Regions from separate parts of the Homo sapiens genome. Here region 2 is linked to region 1. The links come from fine-mapping of genetic effects on gene expression. A gene starts in region 1. The other region holds a variant in brackets. All regions are shown on one strand. Distances are between the middles of the regions. Region 1 holds the start of MPPED2 (metallophosphoesterase domain containing 2). Region 2 overlaps MPPED2 (metallophosphoesterase domain containing 2).

What was found. PIP is the estimated chance that this variant, and not a neighbour inherited with it, causes the effect. A credible set is the group of variants that fine-mapping cannot tell apart.
Region 2: its variant is the best candidate, but not a certain one, in a credible set for the expression of MPPED2 in lung (TOPMed, PIP 0.78).

Annotation. Positions count from the first base shown.
Region 1 is chr11:30,585,038-30,587,946 of GRCh38, forward strand. MPPED2 (metallophosphoesterase domain containing 2) reads right to left here and starts at 1,316. Exons shown (of 7, transcript NM_001584.3): 1 at 1,005-1,316. The region is part of intron 1 of MPPED2-AS1 (MPPED2 antisense RNA 1); the gene reads left to right. RefSeq lists a silencer at 1,221-1,270.
Region 2 is chr11:30,467,493-30,470,401 of GRCh38, forward strand. The region is part of intron 4 of MPPED2 (metallophosphoesterase domain containing 2); the gene reads right to left. Among named protein-coding and RNA genes, the nearest start is that of MPPED2-AS1, 120 kb to the right of the region's middle. The variant G/C (reference allele first, on the strand shown) is at 1,414.

The DNA.
Region 1 (2,909 bases):
GGCATCCTTAATTTATTTTCTTGCTGACGGATTCCAACCGGCTCCTGAGCCTCTAGAAAAATGCCCCCTTCACCTCCTAGGCCGCAAAACCCCGGAATTCAAAGGCTTTACAAAGATAACCTTGTTATACGTAAATAGCAAAGAAACTCCTGCCTCTGTAGAGAAGAAATCCGGCGGCAACGGTTACTTTTCCTCGGTACTCGTCCCCCGTCGCCTAGCCTCGACCCCAGCTTGGGTCGCCGGGTCGCTCCGCAGGCTGCGAGCGCGGAGACCCAGGCAGCGGCGGAGAGTGAGGTTGGGGCGCGGGGACGGGGTGAGAAAGAGCCCCGAGCGAGAGCGGCGCGCGCGGGCGGCCCCGGGGGCGGCCGCGGGGCGCAGCCGGAGCACAAAGCTGCGCGGTGCCTTCCCCTCGTCACTGCACCTGGCCTCGGGCCGCCGCGGGAGCCCGGGGATCGGGCCAACACAATGCACCCAGGCCTAGGCCGGGGCGGCTCGAACACATCACCCCGGGACTTTCTAGTAAACAGCTCGCTGAGCCCTCGTCCCCACCCCCATCCCCGCCGCCCGGCTTCCCCAGCTTCTCGCCGATACCCCCTCCTCTCCTCCTAAGAAATCCTGGCGGAGGAGGGAGCGAAGAGGTGGGGACCCCCAGAGGTCGGGGGACTGATGGCTGGAGGGGGTGGAGAAGAGAAGAGGCGCAGGATGGGGAGTCGGAGGGAAGACACCTCCTAAAAAAGAATTTGCTTTCGCTCAGGGGTTGAAAATCAGCCCTCCCCGAGCGCCGAATTGCCCGGGAGGCGCCCGCTCGTGCGGATGTCAGGGGCACCGGGGCAGCCCGGGTCCGCAGCCTCCGAGCCCCTCGCACGCGCCTCTGACAAGGCACCTCTCACCCGGGCTCCGCTTTGTGTGTGCATTTTTTTCCCTTCCTCTAGTGCTCGGCACCGGGCTCCCGGCCGCCTCCTCCCCCTCCCCCGCCCTCCGCCTCCCTTCCCGGGGCGGATTACCTTTCCCGGGCTGCGCTCCGGATCCCGGGGATGCCTTCAGCGCCCGGCGAGCAGGCGATCCATAGCCGAGCGGCCCGAGCCGGCTGGAGGAGCGCTGGGGGCGCGCGGGGGCGGCGAGGGGCGCGAGCGGGCCAGAACCTTCGACCCCGGAGGTCCCGCCGCAGGCTGGGGCTGGGGGCCAGGGGGCGCGGCGCTAGAGGGAGGCGGGGGGAGAAAGGACCCGAGCAGCCTCGATCTGGGGAGAGAGCGAGCGAGGGGGCGAGGAGAGGGAGCGAGGGCGCGGCGAGCCGGAGGGAGAGCGAGCGGTGCAGTGACAGGGACTGCCACTGGGGTCAAAGGAGCACAGCTCCAGGAAGCAGGGCGGCCGAGGCGCCGCTCCGTGCGCGCTCCCCGGCGGGACCCCGCGCCCCTGCACGCCCCTCCCGCAGTCCCTGCCCACTCGGACCCCCACCGGTGCCCCGAAGCCCCAGGGTTTCGAGAGGAGGAGGGAGCCGAGGGCGAGGCCCGGTAGCCTGCTGGTGCTCCCGGGTCAAGCAGGCGGCAGGAAGCTGAGCTGCAAGTTCATCATCATGAGTGCGATCTGCGTAAAAAATGATAGGGGAAGGAAGGCGGGCTACGGTGCCCCAGGAAAAGAAGGGAGCTTTCTCCCAAATGGTGTTCTTCTGCAAAGAGAACACCCAGCTCCCCGCCACCCACCGACCTGCCAGGCTCTGTCAGGAGTCCTGGCACCGTTCCAGGACGCAGGGCTCACCGCAGGGGTAAGGGGAGCGGCTGGGACACTTCGCTCAGACCTAGGAAGGCGACCCTAGGTTCCCTCCCATCTGCTGATCTGAGGCTTTCCTGGGGGAGAGCTGTGCTCCTTTTTCCCCAAGCCTTTCAACACGACAGACACACACACACACACACACGCTCACTCACTCACTCACACACTCACCTCTTTCTCTCTGCAATGTTGCTGAGAAAGAAAAGGCCAACCCAGCTGATCATTTTTTTTACCTCCATGAATTAAGGCAGATTCAGGACAGGAAGGTGAGGAGAGGCAAAGACTCTAATTGTTTCCATTTTCGTCTTTTGGATAAAATTTTCCCCAAAAGATAAGCATGTCAAAAGCATTTTAAAAATCAAACTTAGTCCAGTTTTGTCTGCTACTTTGGAAAATGGAAGAAAAGGTTTTCAGAATTTTGTACAAACAACACAAGGAAAGGAAATGCCGCTGAAATGCTGGAAGACAGAAAACAAGGGAGAGAAGGCTTTTAGAAAACTTGGTTGGCAGGGTTGTCTGTGAAAGATGAGGTGGCCCTGTGATGTTATGCCATTGTCATTGCTGAAAGATTGGGACAGCAACCAGATCTAATTCCTTTCTAGGAGTCAGACTGAAAGATCTGTGCATTCTCTGAAGGGAAATCCAATGTATATATATGTGTGTGAGAGAGAAGTGTGCTAAGTATACTATGTGACAACTGACTAGACATCCTGGCTGAAATTATACCCCCTAAAAATAAAAAGGAGCCATTGCAACCTGGTCTGTGGCCTCTGTGCTGAGACTAATTGGTTTCCAGGGTCTGGGGAGGAAGGGAGAGAGGCTTGTAGGAGCCCCTATAAAAAAAGATCAAACGGAATTCACTTGAAAATATTTCCCTTTTACAATGGGCTTTCCTGGCACTTGAATTTTAAGTAACCCATCTCTTATGCCTAGGCTGAAATGAAAAGGGAAATGGTCTTACTAATGTATTTATTTTATTTTACAGCATGCCCAGAGTGTCAGTGCTTGTCAAATGTGCTGGGGTGGAAAGGACAGTGTCTTTCCTTGCCCAGCACAAATCAGAACAAGTGACATTGACATTAAAGGATGCCAAAGATGGGGGCATAGAGGCACCTTTAAATTTTGTTTTCTTTTGTTTTCTA
Region 2 (2,909 bases), 120 kb before region 1:
CAGTACCTGATGGATACTAACAGAGGACCCATCAGCAGTGGCCAGTGTGGACCACAGTCCAGAGGGCTCCCACCAAATGGCCTGGATCTCCCCCAGGCCCTGGGCTGGGAGCCAAGGTCGAGTGAACCCCCATTACAAGTGCGATCTAATTCTTTCCCACTCCAAGAGACAAGACTCAGATTTAGATTTACTTCTACTCTAAAAACAAACAAACAAATATATTGATGTGAAATTTCTTGCATCTGCATATCATAGAATAACATTCACACCTGCTACACATGTTTAAATGTTTAAAAACTCGAGTTGCTGGTGCAGAGTTATTGCTCACGCCTTGGGCTTTCATCAAGAGATGCAGCTGTGGAACTGTTGGGGGTAGGAGGGGGCTGGTTTTATTCAGAATCCTTAGCTCCAAGATGTGCTTACTGATGCTATGGCAGAACCAAGGCAAAACAACATGGAGGCTCCTTGGAGATCACTTGGAATGGACCAACAACCACATCCTACAGCTCTCCCCAGAGGCCCCCCGATGCAAGTAAAAGATGCCATGTATTACAACAGTGTATCCCAAGCTTCAGTCCTCATGTACTAGAGTCATGATTCATTAGCTACATCTGTGTACCACCTGTACTAATATTTACTAAGTATTTCTCTACATATGGTATCACTTTTATTACTTAAATAAATTTATCCTCATCCTAAACAAGAATATCCATGAAATCACAAATATGGCATACTATACACACACACACACACACACACACACACTCTCTCTCTCTCTCTCTCTCTCTTTCAATATGCATGCAATAAATACATAATTACTAAAGAACAAATGTGCACCTCTGCACCACCTAAGATTGTGTCACACTTCACCATGTGGCATAGCCTACCACTGTATGCATTGCTGTAAGAACTATAGTTGTTCTGGATATTCTAATCTCATTTTCTCTTCCCATCAATCTCAGTTTACAAACTTTGATAACTTTTTGATGATGACTAGTCTGAATATAAAATGGCATTAAGGGAGAGTGAAAGAGAGGCCAAGGGGAAAAAGAGGGTAAAAGGAGGAGAAGAGGTAAAATAATTAGGAGAGAAGCAGAAAGAAGAAAGGAGAGAGAAAAGAAAGAAAAGATGCCCAGGCAAGATATACAAATAAAAATATTAATCATATAGGAACCTCCATATTGTGTCTGTGTGTGTGTGTAACACAATCACACCAGGAACTCTGTTCACCAAAACCATGGCTACCTCATGAGGGGTCAGTATTATCTTCAATGATTACACAACACTGGTCCCAATCATAAACCTGAAAATAGGAGGCATTTATGCTCTGATCCCCCAGATTCTTCCAGGGACCCTTGTAATTCACTCCACCACTGGATCTTTGCCTTTCACACCATGCAGACTTAACAGCAA[G/C]CTGCATAGCCAGCCCTCCCTACACCTTCCCCACTTACCTTCCTTATCAGTTCAGGAAGAAATTTCTGCAAAACTCTTCCCCTGGTCACTGATATCTCTGGGAACCAAATCCATTAAGATATTTTTGATCCTTACTCATGCTATTTTGAATGTCTGGTGCACAGGAAGGAACCGATAAAAATAGAATTACAATGCCCTTACCGCCAAAGTAGCAAAGGAGCTGATTAAGATTGATGTCTGAATAAATATACAATAGCAGGCCCTACATTTAATAGTCTTTGATGGAAGTGGAAAAGAAGTGTAGTTTTCACTGACTTTATGTGTGTGCATTTCTGTTTTCTTACCATCTACTTTTTTCTTAAAATATGGACTATCTTTTTTTAATATCAAAAGTAGTATTGAATAGTAATGACAACAATAATACAAAATAATGGCTAATATTCATTAAGCACTTACTAGATGACAGACATGGTCCTAGAAAGTTTACATGTATTAACTCACCTAGTTCCCATAGCAGCAAACAACCTAATAAGGATGCATGCCTACTGTTACTCCTTTTTATAGATGAAAAATCTCAGAATCGGAGATGTAGCAGCAGCATAGCAGAAAGAGCCAAGTTCAGTCCTACTTCTCCAATTAAGTATATTCTCCTATTAAGTACATTACTATAATGTTAATATCTCTTGAACCTAGCCTCCTTTTCTATAGTTAAAGGTACTCAAGGAGCAGGTAGAGAACTAAATAGAGAGGTGTGTAAAGCCCTTCAGAGAGTGCCTCCCCCAGGAGTAAGCCCTCAAATGCAATGTGTTATTATCATTATCATTATCATCTTCACCATCATTATCATTATCATGATCACTCCTTCCATATCCCCCATTGATTAGCAGGCAAATGGTTTCCCTCTCTACACTTATTAATCTGATAATATAAAACAAGTAAATTTCCCTAAAGGAGCATGGTCTGATTCTTAAGAATTCTTCAAGGAAAGCACTTATGGCTCATTATCACTGTGTCATGGAAGGTACCCAGAGAACTCCATGGAGAGTAGCTTCAGCCCAGCTAGAATCATGTCATTCGACCAGCAATATCTAAATTATTTGCTGCAACTTCAACTTGTGAGTGGTTGTACAAGTGCTTGGTGACTGAATTTTTTATCTGTCCATGTTAATCACTTTATCCACTTTGATTTCAGCACTTTCTTTTATGAAAATTTATTATTCATTTTCATTTTTAAGGTACACATAGGATGGTCCATCATGAGGTGGACAGCTGGAGAGTCAGCTCATGATTCTAATGTAAGAGGTTTTGGAAAACCTCCCTTCACTTGTCCCCTACCCTACTGGCCCAGTATGGTCAGTCAAGCAAACAAGCCCCCATAATAAGCAGCAAGCACCACTTAAAAGTTGATTGAAGAATATATAAATTATAGTTAGATGGGAGGAATTTTTTTTAAATGTGTCCAGAATACTCAAACATATAGAGACAAAAAGGAGATG